Homo sapiens: one gene and its partners. The gene in region 3 interacts genetically with the main gene of each other region. Each region holds a gene or a part of one and is shown on either strand. Other genes may lie near its edges.

Evidence for each region.
Region 1: changes in XRN2 (region 3) and EIF6 together harm fitness more than expected from each alone (negative genetic interaction), as found in Homo sapiens cells (one large-scale study listed by BioGRID).
Region 2: changes in XRN2 (region 3) and MBTPS2 together harm fitness less than expected from each alone (positive genetic interaction), as found in Homo sapiens cells (one large-scale study listed by BioGRID).
Region 4: changes in XRN2 (region 3) and PSMB6 together harm fitness less than expected from each alone (positive genetic interaction), as found in Homo sapiens cells (one large-scale study listed by BioGRID).
Region 5: changes in XRN2 (region 3) and NCAPD2 together harm fitness less than expected from each alone (positive genetic interaction), as found in Homo sapiens cells (one large-scale study listed by BioGRID).
Region 6: changes in XRN2 (region 3) and NOLC1 together harm fitness more than expected from each alone (negative genetic interaction), as found in Homo sapiens cells (one large-scale study listed by BioGRID).
Region 7: changes in XRN2 (region 3) and GTPBP4 together harm fitness more than expected from each alone (negative genetic interaction), as found in Homo sapiens cells (one large-scale study listed by BioGRID).

What each region holds. Positions count from the first base shown.
Region 1 is NC_000020.11:35,281,973-35,286,006, forward strand, and holds the start of EIF6 (eukaryotic translation initiation factor 6), read right to left. Parts: upstream 2,801-4,034; 5' UTR 2,754-2,800; intron 2,746-2,753; exon of another isoform or gene 2,521-2,745; 5' UTR 2,516-2,520; coding exon 2,409-2,515; coding exon of another isoform or gene 2,290-2,408; coding exon 2,204-2,289; intron 1-2,203. UniProt on the Homo sapiens protein: Binds to the 60S ribosomal subunit and prevents its association with the 40S ribosomal subunit to form the 80S initiation complex in the cytoplasm. Behaves as a stimulatory translation initiation factor downstream insulin/growth factors.
Region 2 is NC_000023.11:21,867,117-21,870,616, forward strand, and holds part of MBTPS2 (membrane-bound transcription factor site-2 protease), read left to right. Parts: intron 1-1,350; coding exon 1,351-1,469; intron 1,470-2,381; coding exon 2,382-2,562; intron 2,563-3,500. UniProt on the Homo sapiens protein: Zinc metalloprotease that mediates intramembrane proteolysis of proteins such as ATF6, ATF6B, SREBF1/SREBP1 and SREBF2/SREBP2.
Region 3 is NC_000020.11:21,306,331-21,309,830, forward strand, and holds part of XRN2 (5'-3' exoribonuclease 2), read left to right. Parts: intron 1-3,500. UniProt on the Homo sapiens protein: Possesses 5'->3' exoribonuclease activity. May promote the termination of transcription by RNA polymerase II.
Region 4 is NC_000017.11:4,794,666-4,798,963, reverse strand, and holds PSMB6 (proteasome subunit beta type-6), read right to left. Parts: upstream 2,801-4,298; 5' UTR 2,770-2,800; coding exon 2,668-2,769; intron 2,237-2,667; coding exon 2,169-2,236; intron 1,527-2,168; coding exon 1,395-1,526; intron 1,283-1,394; coding exon 1,153-1,282; intron 956-1,152; coding exon 811-955; intron 705-810; coding exon of another isoform or gene 685-704; coding exon 542-684; 3' UTR 469-541; downstream 1-468. UniProt on the Homo sapiens protein: Component of the 20S core proteasome complex involved in the proteolytic degradation of most intracellular proteins. This complex plays numerous essential roles within the cell by associating with different regulatory particles.
Region 5 is NC_000012.12:6,518,102-6,521,601, forward strand, and holds part of NCAPD2 (condensin complex subunit 1), read left to right. Parts: intron 1-2,884; coding exon 2,885-3,009; intron 3,010-3,500. UniProt on the Homo sapiens protein: Regulatory subunit of the condensin complex, a complex required for conversion of interphase chromatin into mitotic-like condense chromosomes.
Region 6 is NC_000010.11:102,155,389-102,158,888, forward strand, and holds part of NOLC1 (nucleolar and coiled-body phosphoprotein 1), read left to right. Parts: intron 1-1,630; coding exon 1,631-1,686; intron 1,687-1,797; coding exon of another isoform or gene 1,798-1,800; coding exon 1,801-1,940; intron 1,941-2,042; coding exon 2,043-2,167; intron 2,168-2,660; coding exon 2,661-2,826; intron 2,827-3,500. UniProt on the Homo sapiens protein: Nucleolar protein that acts as a regulator of RNA polymerase I by connecting RNA polymerase I with enzymes responsible for ribosomal processing and modification.
Region 7 is NC_000010.11:998,434-1,001,933, forward strand, and holds part of GTPBP4 (GTP-binding protein 4), read left to right. Parts: intron 1-569; coding exon 570-662; intron 663-2,243; coding exon 2,244-2,435; intron 2,436-2,514; coding exon 2,515-2,580; intron 2,581-3,500. UniProt on the Homo sapiens protein: Involved in the biogenesis of the 60S ribosomal subunit. Acts as a TP53 repressor, preventing TP53 stabilization and cell cycle arrest.

The DNA of each region.
Region 1 (4,034 bases), about 14 Mb from region 3:
ACATAGCAGCACTATTACTTTTTTTTTTTTTTTTGAGACGGAGTCTTGTTCTGTTGCCCAGGCTGGAGTGCAGTGGCACAATCTCGGCTCACTGCAAGTTCTACCTCCCCGGTTCACACCATTCTCCTGCCTCAACCTCCCAAGTAGCTGGGACTACAGGCACCCGCCACCACACCTGGCTAATTTTTTTGTATTTTTAGTAGACACGGGGTTTCACCGTGTTAACCAGGATGGTCTCGATCTCCCGACCTCGTGATCCGCCCGCCTCGGCCTCCCAGAGTGCTGGGATTACAGGCGTGAGCCACCATGCCCGGCCAGCAGCACTATTCCTAACAGACCAAAGTGAAAACTGCCCAAATGCACTGTCGATGGAATGGATGAATACGTTGTGATATACTTACACAAAACACACCATACAGCAACAAGAATGAACAATCTACAAATACACGCCAATCAATTTCTGAATTCCAGGTCACTCCCATCATAAAATACACAAGGACTAAGCTAAAATCTCCCTTGTTGTCAGAACTTGCTTCAAGTCCTAAGGGCATGGTTAGAGATCAGAGTATTTTAACTGAATAGGAAAATACTTTGAGGTCACTAGGCTTAAGTTTTTGTTGTTGTTGTTTTTTGTTTTTTGTTTTTTTTTGAGACACAGTTTCACTCTTATTGCCCAGGCTGAAATGCAATGGCACAATCTCAGCTCACCGCAGGGTGAGCTCCACCTCCAGGGTTCAAGCAATTCTCCCGCCTCAGCCTCCCAAGTAGCTGGGATTATAGGTATGCGCCACCACACCCGGCTAATTTCTGTATTTTTAGTAGAGACGGGGTTTCTCCATGTTGGTCAGGTTAGTCTCGAACTGCTGACCTCAGGTGATCCACCTGCCTCGACCTCCCAAGCAGGCTTAAGATTTTTAAAAATTAAAGTAAAAGTAAAAAAATAAAATAAACAGACTTCTAAAAGTGACCTCAATGAGCAGAACTAAGAAACAATGGGCAGCAGTAATGGAAGACAGATCCAGCTTAATGAAAGGACCGGCCGGGCGCAGTGGCTCACGCCTGTAATCCCAGCACTTTGGGAGGCCGAGGTGGGAGGATCACCTGAGGTCAGGAGTTCAAGACCAGCCTGGCCAACATGGTGAAACTCCATCTCTACTAAAAATACAAAAAAATTAGCCGGGTGTGGCGGGATGCGCCTGTAATCCCAGCTACTTGGGAGGCTGAGGCAGGAGAATCACTTGAAGAGAGTGTTGCAGTGAGCCAAGATCGTGCCATTGCACTCCAGCCTGGGCAACAAGAGCGAAAACTCCATCTCAAAAAAAAATAATAATAATAATAAAAAGGAAAGGACCAACGACCAGAATTAACAGTGCTGACAGGTAGGAAGGTAGGGTAGAGATGTGGTAAAGGGAATTTAAGATTCCAACGTAACTGAGCAGGAAGACCGCATATCTTAGCTAATCTTTACAGAGACAGAAATGGATGCTTAGAAAGAGAAAGCACCTTGCCCAGTCAGTGGCAGGGAGAGATGAGATACAAATCCTCGGCTGGGTATAGTGGCTCTCGCCTATAATCCCAACACTTTAAGAGACCAAGGTAAGAAGATCACTTGAGCCCAGGAGATCAAGGCCAGGCTGGGCAACACAGGGAGGCCGCGTCTCTACCAAAAATGTAAAAATTAGCCAGGTGTGGTGGCACGTGCCTGTGGCCCTAGCTACCTGGTAGGCTGAGGTGGGAGGATCACTTGAGCCTAAGAAGTTGAGGATGCAGACAGCTGTGATCTTGCCACTGCACTCCAGCCTGGGCGAAAGAGCAAAAATCTGGCCTCAAAAAAAAAAAAAAAAGAGAAAAATCCTTCTCCAACACTAGGAACTAGGTGTGGAACTTACTGAGTCACTTAGGTCAAGTCTCAACTTCCTCATCAGTCAAGTTAGGCCAGTAACTCCTACCTTCTAGTGTCTTTGTGACGAAGGAATGAGAACAGGAGTGAAAGCACTTTACATTATTTGTTATTACTATTATCCAGCAGCCTTTGCTAGAGGGTTGCCCCGATCTCCTGACGCTTGGCCTGAGAGATTCTATAGTGCCCAGAGATAACAGATGATACCCTGGGAATCCCTAGGTCACTCCGGGTTCCCTCCGGGGGTGTAATTAATGGTGCTTGGAGACCACTCCCTCCCTCGGCGTCCTCCACCTGCCTTACCCACACACATGCGCCCGATGATGCGGCAGCCGGCGATAGACGCGTGCACCACGGGGATGGTATCGGAGAGCTCGCCCTCGAACACACTGTAGGGACATGGACTCGGTGGTGGCGGGGCAGAGGGGCCGGCACCCTCCCACTGCCGGAGCTCTTGACTCCTGCGCACGCCTCCCCGCCACCGTAAGCCCCGGGGCTCCCGCCGCACCTGTAGAAGTTCTCTGAGCCTCCGATCGCTACCAGACAGTAGGTGTTGGTGAGCTTGGCAAAGCAGCCGATCTCACAGTTGTTCTCGAACGAAGCTCGGACCGCCATGAGGCCTAGGGGCGGCGGAGGCGGGAGTTCAAGGCCGGCGGATCCTTTCCCAAGTATCCCGGCCTCCGTCCCTCAGGCCCCGCCGCGACCCCGCCCCTCTCGGCCTCCCGGCCCCTCCGTCCTCGGGTCCCGCCCACTGGGCCCCCACCAGAACCTCCGGCCCTGAATCCTCTGGCCCCCACCCCTCCCGACCCAGGACCGGAGCTGACCCTCCCAGGTTCCCCTCACACCAGCTTACCAAGTAACCAGTAACAAGCTCCGCACGCGGCGACTGTACCTTGGACTCCCTAAAAAGGTTTCCGTTTCCACTTCCGTCCAGGGAGACTTCCGGGAGAGCCCGGCGCTCCCCGCCACGCATCCAGCCCCTCTACCTCCGGCCTCCGGCGGACTCTATGGTCGCGAGCGGTCTGGGCGCGACCCCGCCTGGCCCCACGCCTAGCCTGCTCGCGTTCATTCATTCATTATTCATTCAGGAGCTTTTTAGGAGCTGTCATCGACCTAGACCTCCGGCTGGTCGGTTGTGAGGCATGAGGGAGAGGAGGGGCCAGGAGTGTCTCGCGGAAGGGTTGATGATGGAGGTATTGATGGAAATGAAGCCGGAGGAAGGGCAGGTTTGGGGAAAGGGATGAGTCCAGCTGTGCCTTGAGGGACAGAAGTCCATGTCTGGAGCCCAGCAGGGGAGTGGAGTGCTGACGAATGAGATGAGGGGCTGAAGACGGGTGGACTAGAAGAGGCTACCCATGGAGAGAGTTCCAGGAGGCAGAAGTGCGGCCAGACCGAGGCTGGAGAAAGAGCGCAGCCAGAGACGGAAAGGCAGCCAGGCTGCAGGTGCTGGAGAGAGGGGAGGACTGAGGAAGCAGGGGCTCAGGAAAAGGCTGGAAAGGGGTCCAGGGTGGGCAAGGATGTGGGTGCTGGTTGGCTTCCACGATGTGCCTCTCGCACGGCCTCTATCACTCACTCAGCAGCCAACTTCTGTCCCCAGGATAGTGATGGGGGCCAAGGGCCCTGCTGCACACTTGGACAGGATGAACTTGGCCCACATTTTGTAGAATCTGCAAAAGCCCCGGGTTCTCTCAAAATGTCACAGTGGTAACTTGGAGCCCCTGGACTCCCCCAATTCCTCCTTCGGCATTCACCCTCCTCCAGGGGTTTCCCCATAATTGGCCTGAATGGTGCCCTTCCCATTCCCCCAACGTGTCCCTCCCATAACTCCTCAAAGTTCAGGATACACCAGGCGCTGTGATTCACAATAAAGTCTGCCTTTATTGATGTGTATCATGTTTACTATCCCGGGTAAGTGGTGAGTTCAGGAAAATGGCCCACAACCTGTCACAGCCTGTACTTCAAGAGACACTCAGCAAGATGATGACGACGACAATGATGATGATGATGATGATGACTCAGCAAGATGATGACGACGACAATGATGATGATGATAATGATGATGTGTGTGTGTGTGTGTTTCCGGGTATCCACATACTCTGCTCTTCCTCACTCATTCACCTCAGACCCACTCAGT
Region 2 (3,500 bases), on a different chromosome or scaffold from region 3:
AATAACCAAAATAAACAAATTGAAAGTATTTATTTACTAAATACTGAAATATTACTACCAGCAACAGCTTTATTGTCACTGGAATAGTGGAAAAGAATGGAAATTCCAGAAGCAAGCCAAAGAATAGATGAAAATGTATTGTAAATTAAAAGTTGCATTTAATTTAGTAGGGAAAGAATGCACTGCTCAGTAATTATTAGCTAAACATTTGAATAAAATTAGTTATATGTATCAGTCACACCATACACAAAAATAAATTCCAAATGGTAAAAGATTTAAATGTAAAAATCACACACATACACAAAAATAAATTCCAAATGGTAAGAGATTTAAATGTAAAAATAAAACTATTTAAACCATCCTTCTCCACAAAAAGAGTGATTACTTACATAATGTTAGGGGCGAGAAAGTCTTCCTTTGCACAGCTGCAAAGGTTGAATATATAATGGAAAAGATTAATGAATTTGAGTACCTAAATTTTAGGGTTTAAAAAAAAATAATAAAGACGGTTTTCTCTTTTTTTTTTTTTTTTTGAGACGGAGTCCTGCTCTGTGCTATGTCACCCAGGCTGGAGCGCAGTGGCACGATCTCAGCTCACTGTAGTCTCCGCTTCCCGGGTTCAAGCAATTCTCCAGCCTCAGCCTCACAAGCAACTGGGACTACAGACGCGCGCCACCATGCCTGGCTAATTTTTTTGTATTTTTAGTAGAGACAGGGTTTCACCATGTTGGCCAAGCTGGTGTTGATCTCCTGACCTCGTGATCCGCCCGCCCTGGCCTCCCAAAGTGCTGGGATTACAGGCGTGAGCCACCGTGCCTGGCCGACAGTTTTCTTATGGTTTGTTGCTTTATAGTCTGTGACGTGATGTAAAATATATGCTCGGTTTGTTCCACCAATATTGTTCTGCATAATAGTTTAGTTCTTAAAACAACCTCCTTTTTCCAAGTACCATTTGAGTTTCTGTACCCCTGTTTAGCAAGAGTTTTTTTTATTTGAATGTATATGAGGTTTCTTTCAAAGATCACAAATATGTTTAAATTAGTGATATATACATTTTCTGAAAAGAGAGTATAATTAGTGGAAGATATTAGTTCTATCAGTATCAAATCATGTTAGCATGTGGTCTTCCTAGTGTGGTATTAACATGCCCATTTTAGATTTCAATATCTAAAATGAAAGTAACTAATAATTGAACATCTGTCTGCTCTACTAATAAGTAGATATTTTTGCCTCATTGCTTCTTCTGATCACTTTATTAATTTATCAGAATGCCCAAGTGTTGTGAGGTCCAGCTACTTATATCATTCCTGCCCCCGGTTGAGCTTATTGCTTTTTTTCCTCTCTTTCCAGGTATCTGGCATAATTTTGTCCTTGCACTCTTGGGTATTTTAGCTCTTGTTCTCCTCCCAGTAATTCTCTTGCCATTTTACTACACTGGAGTTGGGGTGCTCATCACTGAAGTTGCTGAGGTAAATAATGGATTACTCAGGGCATTCTTTCATCAGATGTTGTGATGTAATACCTAGCATCTATTCAGAAACTTTTATTCAAGATCTCTTCATATACAAAATGCTTAGTTTCTTCTGAAGAAATTACTGTAGTCCTCTCAAATCTAACAAATAATGTTGGGAAACACATTGGTTTTTTTAAAGTTTCATGAAAATTGTTTTTGTCCTGATGCTGTACTTAGGAAGATAGTATCAAGATTTTCTACCTGTAGTTTATTGGTAAAATGCATCATTTACCTTTTCTGTTTATTTTTATATCTCTGCTTTTGAGTCAAATGTCTTTACGCCTCCTAAGTAGTAAGAAAGATGAAACCTAGGCTGTCCAGCCGTAACATTTCATAGGAGTTTAAGTTAATGTCTTCAACTCTGTATTTCACTCCCTTAGACAATAACTGCTATGATGGCATCAAATCTTGTATTCAGACATTAGAAAGAGGAAAATTACCTTTGTGAGCAATTGGCTTACATATACATTGTACTGATGGTATTGCCTGCATATTGGGGATATGAAAGGATGTGTCTTATTGTTTTATGCGTTAAGGATATAGGAAAGGCAAGACAGTCTGATGATACTTTCACCAAAAAATTTTTAATTGGCAGTTTGGGAAAAAATTTTATCATTTTAGTCTTAACAGTCAGCAAGTCGGCTTTTTTTCAATTGTGAAAAATTCAAAATCTTGGAGAATTTGGGAAAAGCAACTATAATTGTTGGGTTTTATTTTAATTTTCTAGGACTATGTCTTGAATTCAAAGCTGGATTATTTTCTGCATTCAAACTATTCACTTAATTAACTCAGTGTCTTTATTATTTGCTCAGATTAATTATAGCTTGTCTTCATGCATTATCTGATTTGGTTTTACCCTCTTCCCAAGGACTCTCCTGCCATTGGACCCAGAGGCCTTTTTGTGGGAGACCTTGTCACCCATCTACAGGATTGTCCTGTTACTAATGTGCAAGATTGGAATGAATGTTTAGATACCATCGCCTATGAGCCCCAAATTGGTTACTGTATAAGTGCATCAACTTTACAGCAGTTAAGTTTCCCAGTTAGAGGTGTGTATATTTCCTCAATATAATATAATGCTTCAAGCACCAGTACCTGCCATTCACTAATCCTTAAACCATGTCTATACATTTATTCTGTTCTAATCTGTTTAAAGCAAATCAGTAAAGTAAATAGATTCCAACCAATAGACATTTTTCTTGGTAAGTTGGATGCTAATATGTGTTTCCTTTATTATATATTGTTGAACTTCTAACTATTTTCATTATATCATATTTAACTTTTAGGACTCTAATATTTTCTGCTTTCAAAACACTTGTATTAAATCATAGCCGGGCGCAGTGGCTCACGCCTGTAATCCCAGCACTTTGGGAGGCTGAGGCGGGCGGATCACTTGAGGTCAGGAGTTCATGACCAACCTGGCCAACATAGTGAAACCCCATCTCTACTAAAAATACAAAAATTAGCAGGGCATGGTGACGGGTGCCTGTGATTTCAGCTGCTCGGGAGTCTGAGGCAGGAGAATCGCTTGAACCCGGGAGGTGGAGGTTGCAATGAGCCGAGATCGGGACATGGAAAGAGACTCTGTCTCAAAAAAAAAAAAAAAAATCAGCATTCAAGGTCAATCATAACCAATTAACTAATTCCAATAATCAAATACCCCAATATAATATTATCTTTATGCATGTCTGTAGATATATTATAGTACTTTAAACTTTTATAATTGAAAAAGGGAATATAAGTAATAAGAACCGGTTCTACTTTGCATAAGCTTATGTCAGAACAGATAAACAACGATAGTTAACAACTAAATATATAAAAATCAAAGCATAAACATTCTGTATTAATATATTGTTAGCCCAACACAGACATGCAATAAGGAAAGATTACAAGAAATAAGAAGGAACTTGGCAAACAAAAAACCCCATCTGGGATTTAGAAAAAATTCCCTTACTTCTTAAAAATTCCCTTAATACTTAAACAGTTC
Region 3 (3,500 bases):
CACCATGTTGGCCAAGCTGATCTTGAACTCCTGACCTCAGGTGATCCACCAGCCCCTGCCTCCCAAAGTGCTGGGATTACAGGCATGAGCCACCGCACCTGGCCAGGAATTCCAGTTTTAATATTAGGTTCCCTCAGAACTTTGAAAGAAATTGTTCTTTTGTACTCTCTCATCTAGTAGTGTTGATGACAAGTTCGGTGTTAATGTGATGTATTTATTTAACCAGCAGTTATATAGCATTTACCATTGTTTTAAGAACTTTATTATAACTTGTTTGATCCTCACAACCACATGACTTCTACTGTTGTAATTATTTTTATTACATACAAATAATAGAAGCACGTTATTTGGAGACAACCAATATTGTTATTATGTTATAATAATTACTATGTTTATTGGCCGGGTGCGGTGGCTCACGACTGTAATCCCAGCACTTTGGGAGGCTGAGGTGGGTGGATCACGAGGTCAAGAGATCCAGACCATCCTGGCTAACATGGTGAAACCCCATCTCTACTAAAAATACAAAAATTAGCTGCGCATGGTGGCGCGCCTGTAGTCCCAGCTACTTGGGAGGCTGAGGCAGGAGAATCACTTGCACCCGGGAGACAGACATTGCAGTGAGCCGAGATCCCGCCACTGCACTCCAGCCTGGTGACAGAGCGAGACTCCATCTCAGAAAAATAATGATTATTGTTATGTTTATTATTATTTCAGATGAGAAAATGGAAACACAGCAGGGTCGCGTATCATACCCAAGGTCACTCAGCTGATAAATGTCAGAGCTAGTGTGGAAACCAGAAGGACTTAATTTTTATGCTCATATGCTTTCATTCTTTTGTGATCAGTTTTCCTTCCTAGATTTTAAAAAGATCTTTTTCTTGATAGTGTAAACTTTCATTATTAGGTACCCAGGTATAGATGTTATTTTAAATTCAGATTCATTTTGATCAGTACGTGGCTCACTCTTTGAGTCTGGAGTCTTACGTTCTTCGGTTTTAGGGAATGCTGTTTGATGATTTCTTGACCTTTTTTTCTTCCCTTTCCAGACTCAGGATACTGGTCCTCTTAGACTCATGTATTTTTATTTTTATTTTCTCTCTCATTCTCTGGCTTTCCTTGAAACCTCCCCCAACCTTTGGTGTTTTTGCAGCTTTGTTGAGGTATACTTGACATAGAATAAACTGCAGGTAATTAAAGTGTACAATTTTCTTTTAACTTTTTTCGAGTTGAGGTCTTGCTCTGTCACCAGGCTGGAATGTAGTGTGCAATCATGGCTCACTGCAGCCTCAAAGTCCTGGGCTTAAAGTATATAATTTAATACAGTGCATACATCTGTGAAACCAGCACAACCAAGACAGTGAACGTGACCTCTAAAACATTCCTTCTGCCCTTTTGTAGTTCCTTTCTACTATCCCTCCCTGCCACCTGTCTTTTGCCAACCACTGACTGGTTTGCTTTCTGACCGTATGATAAGTTTTCATTTTCTATAATTTTTTATAAATGAGATTATATAGTATATACTCATTTTTTGCCTCAGTTACTTTCATTCAGTATACTTATTTTGAAATTCTTCCGTTGTTGTATGTGTCAGTAGTTTATTTCTTTTTTGTTTTTATTTTTTTTTGAGATGGAGTCTCGCTCTGTCGCCCAGGCTGGAGTGCAGTGGTGCGATCTCGGCTCACTGCAACCTCCACCTTCTGGGTTCAAGCAATTCTCCTGCCTCAGCCTCCCAAGCAGCTGGGATTACAGGCACATGCCACCACACCCGGCTAATTTTTGTATTTTTAGTAGAGATGGAGTTTCACCATGTTGGCCAGGCTGGTCTTGAACTCCTGACCTCAAGTATCTGCCTGCCTCGTCTTTTAATTTTTGGATAGTATTCTGTGTGTAGATACACCACATTTTATTTATTTATTCAGATGATTGATGAACATTGGGATTGTTTCCAGTTTTTGGCTTTCTGAAAAAGAAACCTATGAACATCTCTGTACAAGTCATTGTAGGGACGTATGCTTGCATTTGTTTGGGGGAAAAACATTAGGAGTGAAATGGTTGGATTGTATATTAGGTGTGTGATTACTTAAAAAGAAAAACCTGCCAGACTTTTTTTTTCAAACTGGTTGTGCCATTTTACATTGGCATCAGCAGCATATCAGGGTTCCAGTTGCTCAACTTCCTCACCAACACTTGATATAGTTAGCCCTTTTAGTTTTAGGTAGTCCAGTGTACTGTTACCTTATTGTGGTTTTAACTTGCATTTCCTTCAGATGCTTATTTGCTTTCTGTATATCATCACGGGCAGGGTGAGGCATCTGTTCAGATCTTTTGCTCATTTTTATCTTCGGTTGTCTTACTTAAATGTAGAGTTTGTTACATATTCTAGATAGAAATCCTTAGTTTGATATATCTTTTGCAAATATTTTCTCTTGATCTGTGGCTTGTCTTTTTACTTCTTAACAGTGTCTTGGGAGCAAACATTTAAAAATTTTAATGAAGTCTGATTAATTTTTTCCCTTTATATTTCTGCTTTTTGTATTTAAGGAATCCTTTGTCAAAGCCAAGGTCTCCTGTGTTTTCTTAGAGAAGTTTTATAGTTTTACTTCATTCTGTGGTTTCCATTTTTTGGTCTAGTCATATGGTGAATTATCGGTCTTTAAATGCTAAAGCCACCTTGCATTCCTTGGATAAACCTCACTTGATCATGTTGTATTATTTTTATATACGTTGAATTCAAGTTTGCTAAAGTTTGCTAAAGTTTTCTTGAGAATTCTTGAGAATTGTGTCTCTGTTCACAAAAGATATTTGTAGCATTCTTGTAATGTGTAGTTGAGATGTCAGAATAATGTTGACCTCAAATTGAGTTCCTTCAGTTTTTTGGAAGAGTTTGTGTAGAGTTAGTATTGTTTCTTCCTAAAATGTTTGATAGAATTTACCAGTGAGGCCATCTGGACTTGGAGTTTTGTGGGAAGGCTTTAAGCTGCAAATTAAGTTTCTTTAGTTGATCTAGAACTATTGAGGTTACCTATTTATTTATTTATTTATTTTTTGGATGAGCTTTTTTAGTTTGTATCTTTCACAGATTTTGCCCATTTCATCTAAGTCAAGCTTGTCCAACCTGTGGCCTGCAAGCTGCATGCAACCCAGGATGCTTTGAATGCGGCCCAGCACAAATTCGTAAACTTTCTTAAAACATCATGAGATTTATGCACAGACCTTTTCTTTTTTTTTCAGCTCATCAGCTGTCGTTAGTATTAGTGGCCCAAGACAATTCTTCTTCCAAAGTGGCCCAGGGAAGCCAAAAGATTGGACACCCCTGATCTAAGTAGTTGAATTGGCTGACATAAAGTTGTTCATAGTATTTTCTTACTATCCTTTTTTTTTTGTTATTAAAATGTTTTCACTCCTGTTTTTACTTCTCTTTTGTTTTCTTTTTTCTTCCTGTTAACTTGTTATTATCCTTTTAATATTGTTAGAATCTGTAGTGATGTTACCTCTTTCAT
Region 4 (4,298 bases), on a different chromosome or scaffold from region 3:
TGCTACTGCTGACCACAAGGTGAGGTAACAGAGGTTAAGTGTGGAGAGAGGGGACCATGAGGCTGGGCTGGAGGAGGCTGGTCTTTGTGGCCTTAGGGACAGTAGTCACCCAGGATGACTGGCAGGAAGCAGGCTGAAGGAAGGTGACTCCAGTTTTAGTCAGAATTCCGAGTTCCACCTTGGGCTTGAACAGGGAGTGGGTGTTGCTGGTACCCCCAACACCAACCACAATCCAGTGGTTCAAGGACCTGGATATGGTGGGGGAAAGGAAGTTTGGGGGAAGGCAATTTGGAGAAGAGGTTTGAAAACCACCCATGTAAAAGTTTACTGGGGAATAAAGCATTCATAAACTCCTTTCATCTCCTCTCCAACTTGCTCTGAGTTCAGTGCAATGGTTTTTACAAATAGGAATGGGCCAGACAAATTCGGACTTGAAGTCAAAAAAAAAAGAACCCCAAAGTACAAAGATTCTCTGTGACAAACTTTATTAAATTTTGCATCAGTACAGGGCATCTCTTATTGCATACTAGAATCCCAGGATTCAGGCGGGTGGTAAAGTGGCAACGGCGAATTTGGGTATCTGGTCTCCCAAAAGTACTTGCCGCTCTACCCCTGACTCTGCAATGGCTGCCAGGCGGATCACTCCTCCACTGGAGCCATCCCGCTCCATGGCCAAAGCGAGAGCTGTGGATAAAAGAAGAAAGCTGGGTTCAGATTCAGATGCCGGGATCACTGCAAGGAATGAGGAATGCTGGCCTGGCTTGGGTAGTTGGGGTTGAAGCTCATAGGCCCAGAAGCCTAAGCTCTCACCATTGGCAGTGAATTGCAGACACTCTTCCTTGGTCATGCCTTCCCGGTAGGTAGCATCAACATAGCCATAGATGTAGGAGCTCCCGGAGCCTCCAATGGCAAAGGACTGCCTTACCATCATACCCCCCATAGGCACTGAGTACACCTGCCAGATAGAAGGAGAGGAGTCACCAGTCGTATCCTCCCTCCAACACACGTACATTCACCTGTCCATTCTGCTATTGGTCTGAGGCACGTTAATAGTAAGAATAAGTGAGGTAGAGACTGGAAAGAAAAAGAAAATGGCTGGGGAGAGGATAAAAGTCCTGGCTCAAGTGTGCTCTGGTCGGGTGGGGATCTGACCTGCCCTCCTTCTTGAGGGTCCCAGCCTGCGATGATGATTCCCGCCATCAGGTCTTCCCGGTATCGGTAACACATCTCCTTAAAGAGGCTGGCTGCTGTGTGGACCAGTGGAGGCTCATTCAGTTCAATGCTAGAGGGTCAGGGAAGTCACAGAGAAAGTTTCAAGACCTAGAAGTCAGGCTATTTAGCTCCTCAGCTTCCAACTCCCTTCAGATACTTGCCCCTCCCCTGCCCACAAGCACCTGTGGAAACCGAGCTGGTAGGTGACAGCATCAGCTACTGCCTGGGTATCAGCAGCTGAGCCTGAGCGACAGCAGAAAATGCGGTCGTGAATAGGTGTCAGCTTGTCAGTCACTCGATTGGCGATGTAGGACCTGCAGGATGGCAGAATAGTGAGGAAAGGAGCCCACCTGTCTTCCACCTCCATCCCATCACTACCCACTCTCTTAGGGCTCAGGGATAGGATGTCCAGTATTGCCTTTTTTTCCTTTTTCTTTGAGATGGAGTCTCGCTCTGTTGCCCAGGCTGGAGTACAGTGACGCGATCTCTGCTCACTGCAACATCCACCTCCTGGGTCCAAGCGATTCTCTAGCCCTAGCCTCCCAAGTAGCTGGGACTGCAGGCACGCACCGCCACGCACGGCTAATTTTTGTATTTTTTAGTAGAGACGGGGTTTCGCCATGTTGGCCAGGCTGGTCTCGAACTCCTGACCTCAGGTGATCCACCCGCCTCGGCCTCCCAAAGTACTGGGATTACAGGCGTGAGCCACCGTGCCTGGCCTCCAGTATTGCTTATTCTCATCCAAACTGAAGCGGGCTGGAGAACAGACTTTTGTAAGGATTCCACTAACGAGTGAGGGGAACTGAAAGTAACAAAAGTTGGGACAAATCTTTATCTCCAGAGAGAGAAGAAACCTCTCTTCCCACAGTGGTCTGTGGAGGCAGGCAGGGTGGGCTGGCAGGCAGGAAAGGAAAAGGAAGATGGGAAGACCTTTCACAAATCTGTCCTGAGCTCACCCAGTGGTTGTTCTGGAGTCCGCCCCCAGAACCACGCCCCCGTCAAACTGCACGGCCATGATAGTGGTCTGGGAAAAGGGAAAAAGGAGTAAGTCTACATTCTCCAGCAGACACAAACCTCAATGATCTCTCTACCTAGTTCCAAAAATACAAAATCTGTCCGTCGCTGAACCATTTTCAAATCTTATAGGGGCCTCAGCACCCCGCAGAATACCAGAATGCCAACCCTCAAATCTCAAAAGACTCATCCCGTACTTAAGCCCAAGATCCTCACTAGCCTCGCAGGATTTCAGAATTTCAAACTTCAGCCCACCCTCCACCTCCCACTACGAAGCTACCGCACCACTCCACCATCTTCGGGGTACCTCTCCCCATTCCTGGAGCACAACACATTCCACCTCCTCTCCACCCCTGCCAGATCTCTCAACCCCACTCAGGCTTTATCTTCCCATCGCGTCAGGCCTTGTGCACGTCCTATGAACCCCGATTCCTTCCTCACCCCAGTGGAAACTTCTCGGCTTTCCCAGTCTGGAGTGAACGCCTCCGGCCCCCAAGCCGGTGCTGGCCCGGCTCCCCGAGCAGCTAGTAAGGTAGCCGCCATCTTTCTCCTCCGGTACTGCCTCAAAGCAACTGTCGTAAAGCGCTCTGTCACGCTCTTTGGTCGCGCTTTGAGGCCTTCTGGGAGCGAAGCTACTCCGAGGTTGACGGCAGAAGGGAAAAGAAAAGTACAGTACTGCATGGGGACGGTTCTTTTGCGACAGTGAGCACTTGATGGCAGCGTGGCAAGCAACAAACAAAACAAGAAAGTCAGCAAAACCCCCCCCCCAAAAAACCAAAAAAAACCCAAAAACCGTTCGGCACTTTGGGAGGCTGAGGCGGGCGGATCATGAGGTTAGGAGTTCAAGACCAGCCTGGCCAACATGGTGAAACTCCTTCTCTACTAAAAAATACAAAAATTAGCCGGGCGTGGTGGGGCGCGCCTGTAATCCCGGCTACTGGGGAGGCTGAGGCAGGAGAATCGCTTGAGCCTGGGAGGCGGAGGTTACAGTGAGCCGAGATCACGCCACTGCACTCCAGCCTGAGCGACAGAGCAAGACTGTCTCAAAACAAAAGCAAAAACAAAACAAAACAAAAAACAGTCCTAGTGGCTTGCGCCGTACCGATCTTATGGAGTTACAGTCCAAAGGGCCCACAAAATAAACCTGAGAGTCTTTGGGCTAAAGTGACCACACCATGTTTTCATTTCTTTTAGTTATATACTTAGGAGTATATGCTGGCAGAGGAATTTATGGGTTCTATGATAACTGTATGTTTAACATTTTGAGCAACCGACAAACTGTTTTCCACAGAAACTGCACCATTTTACATCCCTACAAGCCATGTGTGAGGGTTCCAATTTCTCCACATCCTCACCAACACTTGTTATTGTGCATTTTTTTAGTTATAGCCATTCCAGTGGGTGTGAAGTGGTACCCTGTGGTTTTCATTGGTATTTTTCTAATGATTAGTGATGCTGAGCATATTTCCATGAGATAATTGGCCATTTGTATGTCTTTTTTGATGCAATGTTTTTTCAAGTTCTTTGCACATTCTAAAATTGGGATATGTCTTTTGTTTAATATATTTTTGGGGTTTAATTTTTTTTTTTTGAGACGAGGGTGGGGTGTGTGTGTGGGGTGGGTTTGTCTTGCGGTGTTTCCCAGGCTGGAGTGCAGATGGGATCATGGTGCACTATATCAGCCTCGAACTCCTGGGCTCCAGTGATCCTCCCGCCTCAGCTTCTCAAGTAGCTGGGACTACAGGTGTGTGCCACTGAACCCAGCTCTATTTGTCTTTTTTTTTTTTTTTTTTTTTTTTTGAGACGGAGTCTCGCTCTGTCGCCCAGGCGGGACTGCGGACTGCAGTGGCGCAATCTCGGCTCACTGCAAGCTCCGCTTCCCGGGTTCACGCCATTCTCCTGCCTCAGCCTCCCGAGTAGCTGGGACTACAGGCGCCCGCCACCGCGCCCGGCTAATTTTTTTTGTATTTTTAGTAGAGACGGGGTTTCACCTTGTTAGCCAGGATGGTCTCGATCTCCTGACCTCATGATCCACCCGCCTCGGCCTCCCAAAGTGCTGGGATTACAGGCGT
Region 5 (3,500 bases), on a different chromosome or scaffold from region 3:
GTCTGACCATAGGCCTAGTCCACAATTAAGCATGTGTTTCTACTTTATAAATGTTTAAAAAAACTACTGAAACAATTAAATGTTAACAGTATTATAATCAAACATGAGTCCTCCTTCAATTGAAGAAGAGCACCTATAAATAAGTTCTAGTTGTATGATCTTGAATAAGTTGCTTAACTTTCTGTGCCTCGGTTTCATTATCTATAAAATAAGAAATTGATTAGATCTTATGATCTCTAAGGACTTTCTAATTCTAAATTTCATGAACTAATAATATCAAACATGCTTAATACTACCTTAATCTTCAAACCTAGTATGAATCCTGATCTTAGAGAAAAGATTTCTCCTAGTGTTTTTGTGACTCTAGAACTTAACAACAAAAGCCCTTACAGCCGTCAACAAGTTTTTTTTTTTTTTTTTTTTTTTTTTTTTTGAGATGGAGTCTCACTCACTCTGTTGCCCAGGCTGCAGTACAGTGACACGATCTTGGCTCACTGCAACCTCTGCCTCCCAGGTTCAAGCAATTCTCGTGCCTCAGCCTCCCAAGTAGCTGGGACCACAGGCGCGCACCACCACACCGCACTAATTTTTTTATTTTTAGTAGAGACAGGGTTTCACCATATTGGCCAGGCTGGTCTTGAACTCCTGACCTCAGGTGATCCACCCATCTCAGCCTCCCAAAGTGCCATGATTACAGGCGTGAGCCACCGCACTCGGCTGCCAACAAGTATTCTTAAACCTCAGCCACAAGTTATTTGTTATTTATTTACTTCTTACCTAATTGGGCTGAATTTTTTTTTTGGAGACGGAGTCTTGCTCTGTTGCCCAGGCTGGAGTGCAGTGGTGCGATCTTGGCTCACTGCAACCTCCACCTCCTGGGTTCACGCCATTCTCCTGCCTCAGCCTCCCGAGTAGCTGGGACTACAGGCGCCCGCCACCACGCCCGGCTAATTTTTTTTTTTATATTTTTAGTAGAGACGGGGTTTCACCGTGTTAGCCAGGATGGTCTCAATCTCCTGACCTCGTGATCCGCCTGCCTCGGCCTCCCAAAGTGCTGGGATTACAGGCTTGAGCCACCGTGCCCGGCTTGGGCTGTTTTTAGAAGGCTAGAGAGTGGCTTGTTTGCCCTATGACTCCCTTATGTTACTTTAGTGTCTCTCTTTTTATTTTGCTAAAGCAAAAATAGAGACTATAGTTTTATAAGTGCATGTTCCACCAAGCATTCTAGTATTTTCTCCTGTCAATTAGAAAAGGATTGTTTGTTTTTGAGACAGAATCTCACTGTTGCCCAGGCTGGAGTACAGTAGCGCAATCACAGCTCACTGCAGCCTCTCACTGTAGCCTCAACCCTGCTGGGCTCAAGCGATCTCCCACATTAGCCTCCTGAGTAGCCTGGTTAATTTATTTATAATTTGTAGCTGGGATTACAGGTACACACCACCAGGCCTGGCCTTTGCCAGCCTGGGCAACGTGGCAAGAAGATAACATGTAGACAAGCAGTCAAACATGTATTCTTTTTTTCCCCCTTTTATATGACTGATAGAATTCTCTGCCCACTGATCTACCATCTTGTTTTTTTCACTTAACTATGTGTCTCAGTGGTTTTTAAAAATATTTATGGCTGGGTGCAATGGCTCATGCCTGTAATCCCAGCTACTTGGGAGGCTGAGGCAGGAGAATTGCTTGAACCCAGGAAGCAGAGGTTGCAGTGAGCTGAGATTGCTCCGCTACACTCTACCCTGGGTGACAGAGGAAGAGTCCATCTCAAAAAAAAAAAAAAATTTATAGATGGCCAGGTGCAGTGGCTCACACCTGTAATCCCAGCACCTTGGGAGCCCAAAGCTGGTGGATCTCTTGAGGCCAGGAGTTTGAGGCCAGCCTGGCCAACGTGGCGAAATGGCGAAACCCATCTCTGCTAAAATTACAAAAATTGGCCAGGTATGGTGGCACGTACCTGTAATCCTAGCTATTTGGGGAGCTGAGGCATGAGAATCACTCAAACCTAGGAAGCAGAGGTTATAGTGAGCCAAGATCATGCCACTACACTTCAGCCTGGGTGACAGAACAAGACTCTGTCTCTAAAAAAAAAAATATATATATATATATACACATATATATTTATACATAAATAGTTTCCCACTCTCCTCTTTTTTTGAGAGAGAGAGTGTCTCACTCTTTTGCCCATGCTGGAGTACAGTGGTATGATCACAACTCACTGCAGCTTTGATCTCCCAGGCTCAAGTGATCCTCCCACCTCAGCTCCCTCGAGTAGCTGAGACCACAGGCACACACCATTACACCCACAGGCACACACCATCACACCCACAGGCACACACCATCACACCCACAGGCATACACCATCACACCCACAGGCACACACCATCACACCCGGCTAACTTTTTTTACTTTTTGTATAGTTGGGTCTCCCTGTGTTGCCCAGACTGATCTCAAATTCCTGGGCTCACGTGTCCCCATTATTTTTTATGACTACATAGAATCTTATTGTCTGGATGTGCCTGAATTAACTAATTATTGAAAGTTTATTGTTTCTAAACTTAGGAAAGTTTTTAAACAGGTGTTTGGAGTAGGTTTATGATTTTAAAACTTTAAAAAGCCTTATTGGAGTTTTTTTGAAGACTGTAGTAATGCCTTGTAGGTTCAGAAATAGGAAAAGTGTTTGCAGATGAGCAGTCAGGGGAAAAAAATAGGCAAAGTGTTTTGAGCCCTACCCCTTAGTAGGTGCTGTAACAACTTTTTAAGCATGTTAAGTGCTCCTTTTCTCTGGGCAGTAGGTCCAGGGACTTGATAGAATCATGAGGTAAGCTCCCTTACAAACGGCTGCAGTGACATTCTTCTGGGTACTGACAGGCTGGTGTTCTTTCAGAAAGGCCATCATTCTCACTCGAGAAGCCACAGGCCACTTCCAGGAGTCCGAACCCTTCAGTCATATAGACCCAGAGGAGTCAGAGGAGACCAGGCTCTTGAATATCTTAGGACTTATCTTCAAAGGTAATCATTTTCCTTCTTCAGTCAATAAATAACACATGTCAACTGGTATTTACTGAGCATTAACTTTATGCCATCATTGGCCTGGTTAACAGAACCTGGTGCTGAAGAGCCCAGAGATGAATTGGCATTACTTTTGCTCTGGAATGGAAGCAGCCCACGGGCCTAAGATTGATAGTCACAGGGTGACTGTCCAGACCATAGCGGTCTTTAGGTATGGTTTTTGAGAAATTTAGATATTTTAGAGTAAGTTTTAATTTCATATCTTCACATTGTGAAAAGAGATATCCAGGGCCAGATGTCGTGGCTTATGCCTGTAATCCTAACACTTTGGGAGGCCAAGGCAGGAGGATTGCTTGAGCCCAGGAGTTGAAAATCAGCCTGAGCAACATGACGAAACCCCCATCTCTACAAGGGATACCAAAAAAAAATTAGCCAGGTGCGGTGGCACGCACCTGTAGTCCCAACTGCTCAGGAGCTGAAGTGAGAGAATC
Region 6 (3,500 bases), on a different chromosome or scaffold from region 3:
AAAAAGAGAGAGAGAGAGAGATGGAGGTCTCACTGTCTTGCCCAGGCTGGTCTTGAACTCCTGTCCTTAAGTGATCCTCCTGCCTTGGCCTGCCAAAGTGTTAGCGTACCTGCGCCCGGCCTGAATGCATTTTTTTTTTTTTTTGAGACTTACTCTGTCGCCCAGGCTGGAGTACAATGGTGTGATACTGGCTCACTGCAACCTCAGCCTCCTGGGTTAAAGCGATTCTCCTGCCTCAGCCTCCTGAGTAGCTGGGATTACAGGTGTGCACCACCATGCCCAGTTAATTTTTTGTGTTTCTGGTAGAAATGGGGTTTCACCATGTTGGCCAGGCTGGTCTCAAACTCCTGACATCATGATCTGCCTACCTCGACCTCCCATAGTGCTGGGATTACAGCAGACCTGAGCCACCGTGCCTGGCCCTTAAATGCAGTTCTTTACATTCAATACAGTACTTACTAGTCTTGTTTCTTTCTTTTTTTTTTTGAGACAGAGTCTTGGTCTGTCGCACAGGCTGGAGTGCAGTGGCGCGATCTCAGCTTACTGCACCCTCCGCCTCTGGGGTTCAAACGATTCTTCTGCCTCAGCCTCCCGAGTACCTGGGATTACAGGCGCCTGCCACCACACCCGGCTAAGAGACAGGGTTTCTCCATGTTGGCCAGGCTGGTCTTGAACTCCTGGCCTCAGGCGATCTGCCCGCCTTGGCCTCCCAGAGTGTTGGGATTATAGGCGTGAGCCACTGCATCCCGCCTGGAGGCTTATTTCTAATGATTTGGTATTATAATCCACATTGCAGGAAAAACCTTCTTGTATTAGTGTTTGTACCCTCAAGTAATGGATAAGATTACATTCTTAGATAGTACATTGCTAGAGTAAAGAGAGAGCCTTTTTTTTGGCAGAGGGGTAGAGATGGGGGTCTTGCTATGTTGCTTAGGCTGGTCTTGAACTCCTGGCATCCAGTGATCCTCCTGTCTCAGCTTCCCAAAGTGCTGAGATAACATGAGATAACAGGCATAAGCCACTGTGCCCAGTCAAAAGTGATTTTTTTTTTTTTTTGAAATGGAGTCTTGCTCTTGTTGCTCAGGCTGGAGTGCAGTGGCGCGATCTCCTAGGTTCAAGTGATTCTCCTGCTTCAGCCTTCTAGGTTCAAGCAATTCTCCTGCTTCAGCCTCCCAAGTAGCTGGGACTACAGACATCTGCCATCATGCTGGGCTAATTTTTGTTTTAGTAGAGATGGGGTTTCACCATGTTGGCCAGGCTGGTCTTGAACTCCTGACCTCTTGATCTGCCTGCCTCGGCCTCCCAAAGTGCTGGGATTACAAGCATGAGCCACCGTGACTGGCTGATTTTTTGTTTTGTTTTGTTTTAGGACTTTGATCAATATAGATTGGCAGGCAGGGGGTTAGATGGTTAGATGGTGCCGCAAACATAGGAGTAGCCCGTTTTTTACATCAGAAATTGGGAAATCCACAAATAGAATATTTTTCTCCTGATTTATGCACGTAGCAAAAGTTTTATGAAGATGTAACATTTATACCAAATTTAGTAATTATGTATGTAACAGGCCACATTTAATGAAAGCATAACCAGGATAAAATAATTTCCTTACCCAGCTCTTTTTCTTCTACAGACACAGCAGGATGCCAATGCCTCTTCCCTCTTAGACATCTATAGCTTCTGGCTCAAGTAAGCCTTTCCTGTTCCATTTTGGCTATTTTCTCCCCCAAGATAGGCTGGGCTGTGTTTCTTGGTTTGGGAAGATTCCAGTCCCCTAGAAATTGGTCCAATCTACCTCAGCAGGTCTGCCAAGGTCCCAGAGCGAAAGTTACAGGCAAATGGACCAGTGGCTAAGAAAGCTAAGAAGAAGGCCTCATCCAGTGACAGTGAGGACAGCAGCGAGGAGGAGGAGGAAGTTCAAGGGCCTCCAGCAAAGAAGGCTGGTAAGGCAGAGTAGCAGGTGGGCTTGGTGGTGCCAGGAAAAGAATTTACAGCCTGCTTGTTTCACATGGCTGATTCTTACTGGGACCTGTGTGTTTGTTCAGCTGTACCTGCCAAGCGAGTCGGTCTGCCTCCTGGGAAGGCTGCAGCCAAAGCATCAGAGAGTAGCAGCAGTGAAGAGTCCAGTGATGATGATGATGAGGAGGACCAAAAGAAACAGCCTGTCCAGGTTTGCAGCTTTGGGAAGAAAAAGGGGTTTAAGGATTAGAAAGGAAGAAACCTAAAATCTTGGCCTCTAGCTTGTAACCAAGGGGTGATGGCGGCAATACAATAGGTGATTATGAGGAAGAAAATCTGGGGATTTTCAGGGAGCTGATAAAAGTATGAGGTCTGGAAGGGATGTGTGAGGTTGAGGTCAGGCTCCGAATCTAGAGGAAATTAAACCCATTCTGCTTGAGGAGTTTGGGTTCTTCTGGGACACTATTCAGGGCTCCAAGAATAAGAGAGAGTGTTTTCCTGGGAGCTTTGGCAGGATAAGGCAGGAACAGGGCCAGTGTATCAAGTGGCTGAACTTTGTTGTTTTTTGCCCTTTCCGTATCCTGTCCTTAGCTTTCTTTTGCTCTTACTGCTCCATTAGGCCCCTAAAAATAAAAGGAACCTAGGATGCCCTTTGGGTACCCGGAAGCTTTTGCTGATTTCTCTCCTTGTGTCTTTTCTAACAGAAGGGAGTTAAGCCCCAAGCCAAGGCAGCCAAAGCTCCTCCTAAGAAGGCCAAGAGCTCTGATTCTGATTCTGACTCAAGCTCCGAGGATGAGCCACCAAAGAACCAGAAGCCAAAGATAACACCTGTGACAGTTAAAGCTCAGACTAAAGCCCCTCCCAAACCAGGTACTGTTTCTGTTCCCAAGAGGCTGGGCTGGGGACCAGATTGCTCTGGGGACTGGAGTTAAAATTGCCGATTTGGCACAGGGGTGAAATGGTACTGTTTGTTGAACTGGAGGTGTTGATTACTGGTCTTTTAATTTTAAAGGTTTTACTAATAAATAACAAGATTTCATAGGAGCTAGTAAATAGAGAAAGTTATTGCAGCAAGAAAAAATGTGTATTTTTTTTAATGGTATCCATTTGGTATTTTGTGACATTTCATAGACATTTTATGTTTTCACACATCCCATTCCACTGTAATCACTTAAATATCTATTTGTTGTGCTTTTCACTGCCATTTTTACTCTTGTATGTTCATTCTATGAGACAAATGAGAATTTTTCTTTTTTTCTGTAACTTGTGATGAGGGTTAGGTTATTTCTCTGAATGGAGGTTGAAGTGAAAGATTTTAGAGGGCGTATTGAGATTATTTATGTCATCTTTTCTAAGAAGACAGTTTTATTCCTGCCATGGGATAGGAAAGGTATCCTTTGATGTGGTAAACCATGGCTGGCATTCTCCTCGATGGCTGCTCTAAAGTTGAAAGAATTGGTGGACTCCTGGCCAGGCACAGTGGCTCACACCTATAATCCCAGCACTTTGGGAGGCTGAGGCGGGCGGATTGCTTGAGGTCAGGA
Region 7 (3,500 bases), on a different chromosome or scaffold from region 3:
GTTTTATTTTGTCTACAGGTTGCTGTGACATGGTGACCAGCAAAGCTCTGCAGGGTCCTTGCTGATTTTTCAAATGCTTGTCAGCTCTGAACCTGCCCTGAGCTCTGAGCCAGTGCTCTGTGGCCGATTTGGTGGCCACTGCACTGGGTGGCTTTTTAAATTGCAGTTTAATTCAGCAAAATGAAAATTTCAACTCCTCAGTCACATGAGCCACATACTGAAAGTTCATTAGCAGTGCATGACTGGTGGCCCGGTTTGGACAGTGCAGACAGAACATGCCTGTCATCATAAAGAGCTCTGCGGGCATTGCAGGCGGTGGGGCAGGACTTGGGAGGGTGAGGGGAGGTGGTGGCTGTCCTCCAAATGCCAGCCCTCACGCTGTCCTAGTACCCCAGTCCTTGGCCTGGTGGTGCAAAGGGAGAGGTACCAGGCTCCTATTCGATGCAGTTTTATCGTGTGAGGTTTCTTCTATGGTTATTTCCTACCCAAAATCAGTCTTGTTAAAACACACAGATCCCACGTGTACACAGAGGAAATGAGGTGATTCTGAAAGTTCTCACTTGTTCCAGGTGACGAGAGCAGACGTGGATGTCCAGCCCTATGCGTTCACAACCAAGTCTCTGTTTGTTGGGCACATGGATTATAAGTATCTACGTTGGCAGGTGAGAGTCTTGTCTTTATTTTTATTCATTTATTTATTTTGAGTTGGAGTTTCACTCTTGTTGCCCAGGCTGGAGTGCAGTGGCATGATCTCAGTCCACTGCAACCTTCACCTCCCAGGTTCAAGTGATTCTCCTGCCTCAGCCTTTCGAGTAGCAGGGATTACAGGTGCACACCACCACGACCGGCCAATTTTTGTGTTTTTTTAGTAGAGAGGGGGTTTCACCATGTTGGCCAGGCTGGTCTTGAACTCCTGACTTCAGGTGATCTGCCCGCCTTGGCCTCCCAAAGTGCTAGGATTACAGGTGTGAGTCACACTGCACCTGGCAAGAGTCTTGTCTTTAAACAGAACAAATATCTTGGTTTATCAAGAACTTGAAATTTCTCCATCATCATAAAGAAAACTCATCTGAGCTCTTGGGATGCATAAGAACAGGTCGCATGTCTCTGATATAATTCAGGGGAGGCAGCCAGCTGCCAGTGTGGATTTCTGCATTTTCTTAACATAAAATGAAATTATCTTTGTGTCATTTCTAACTCTGTTATCAGAAATGGCATATATACAGTTTAAAAGCGTGAAGCAGGCTGGGCACAGTGATTCACGCCTGTAATCCCAACACTTTGGGAGGCCAAGGCAGGCAGCTAACCTGAGGTCAGAAGTTCGAGATTGGCCTGGCCAACATGGCGAAACCCCATCTCTACTAAAAATACAAAAATTAGCTGGACGTGGTGGTGGGTGCCTGTAATCCCAGCTACTTGGAAGGCTGAGGCTGGAGAATCGCTTGAACCCAGAAGACAGGGGTTGCAGTGAGCCGAGATTGTGCCATTGCACTCCAGCCTGGGCGACAGGAGCGAAACTCTGTCTCAAAAAAAATAAATAAATACAAAGCAAGAAGCAATGTTTCCACACTCTAATTTTGTAAATTGTGAAGAAAGTAATTCCTAAGACATGGGAGGGTTCTCAGTTATCCCAGTTTTTGTGTTTTATGATGTCGCTGGTAAAAAGAGGAGTCATTTCTCTCAACATCATGGCTAGCATTTCTTTGAGCTCTACAGGGTTCCTCCTCCCTTTTTTGATGTTTAAATAGTATGTACTTTTCTGTCACTGGTTTATTTTGTGGTATTCAGTTTGGGAGACCTACTTTTTTTTTTTTTTTTTTTTTTTTGAGATGGAGTCTCTGTCACCCAGGCTGGAGTGCAGTGTCGCTATCTTGGCTCACTGCAAGCTCCGCCTCCCTGGTTCACGCCATTCTCCTACCTCAGCCTCCCGAGTAGCTGGGACTACAGGTGCCCGCCACCACGCCCAGCTAATTTTTTGTACTTTTAGTAGAGATGGGGTTTTGCCGTGTGAGCCAGGATGGTCTCGATCTCCTGACCTCGTGATCCACCCGCCTCGGCCTCCCAGAGTGCTGGGATTACAGGTGTGAGCCACCGCACCCAGCCCTACTTTTTTTTTTTTTTAACTACAATTCTGCTGTAAGATTATTAGGTCTGGTTGGGTGTGTGTGAGTGACTTCTGGGATGTGCTGGACAAGAAGCTTGTGGGTGAGTGTGCTTTCAGTGACAAGGTCTGGCTGTGTTAGGTTGTAGACACTCCTGGGATCCTGGACCACCCTCTGGAGGATAGGAACACCATCGAGATGCAGGCCATCACTGCCCTGGCCCACCTCCGTGCTGCGGTCCTGTATGTGATGGATTTGTCTGAGCAGTGTGGGCATGGGCTGAGGGAGCAGCTAGAACTCTTCCAGAACATCAGACCTCTCTTCATCAACAAGGTGTGTGTGGTCACTCATGTTTTGCTTCATATCCTGCAGTACGAGAATAATGATTTCATTATTTTTCTTCCTTGCCTAGCCTCTCATAGTTGTAGCCAACAAATGTGATGTGAAGAGAATAGCTGAACTTTCTGAAGATGATCAGGTAAATCACGTTAATATTTTGAATATTTCTTACTTACCAATTCTGAATTCTCATCTCAGACAACCAAAGTTTAGATGAAGGAATTTTAGCAATACTAGTCCACAATTGTATTTTATAGTTGAGATAATATCCTCAGTGGTTTAGTGAAAAGACATAATAAAAACTTAGTTATTGGCAAACTAAAACGAAAACATAAGTTTCTGGATTCTTTGTTCTTGAGTGTGTGGAAGCATCTGTATTTGATGGGTTGGACTTTTGGAAAATGTGATTACTTAGGAGAGAACTGTTGGAGAAGGGTGCTCACAGGTGTTACTTCATAAAACAGGTTCTGTGATTAAATGAGTTTGGAGACTAATGATTGAGTGAAGGAGAAGGAGGATCTTGGAATTTGGGCTTTCTGGATCTGGATCTATGAGTGAGACGTGCCTGCTAGCTTTCTCCAAGAGGCAGGCAGTATTGTTGGACATAATTTTTCAAACTGATTGAATCCTACAACCTTTTTAATAGGCATCCTTCATGATAAATGCTTTTAGAAGCGTGCACTGGTGGAGTGGCTTTCAAATTGTGGTCCTGGCCCAGCAATGTCAGCATCACCTTCTTAATTTCTTCCTTAATTTCCTCATTGATCCATTGGTCATTCTGGGACATGTTTATAATTCTCATGGGTGGTTTTTTTTTTTTTTTTTACAGTTTTGAAAGTATCTCTTGGTATTGATTTCTAGTTTTATTCCACTGTGGTCTGAAAAGATACTTGGCAATTTTTAAAAATTGATGAGATTTGTTTTGTGGCCTAACATATGGTCTATCCTGGAGAATGTTTCATGGACTGAGGAGAGGAATGTGTTTTATGCAGCGGTTGGATGACATGTTCTGTAGATGTTTGGTCTACAGTGCACTTTTTTTTTTATTTTATTTTTGTT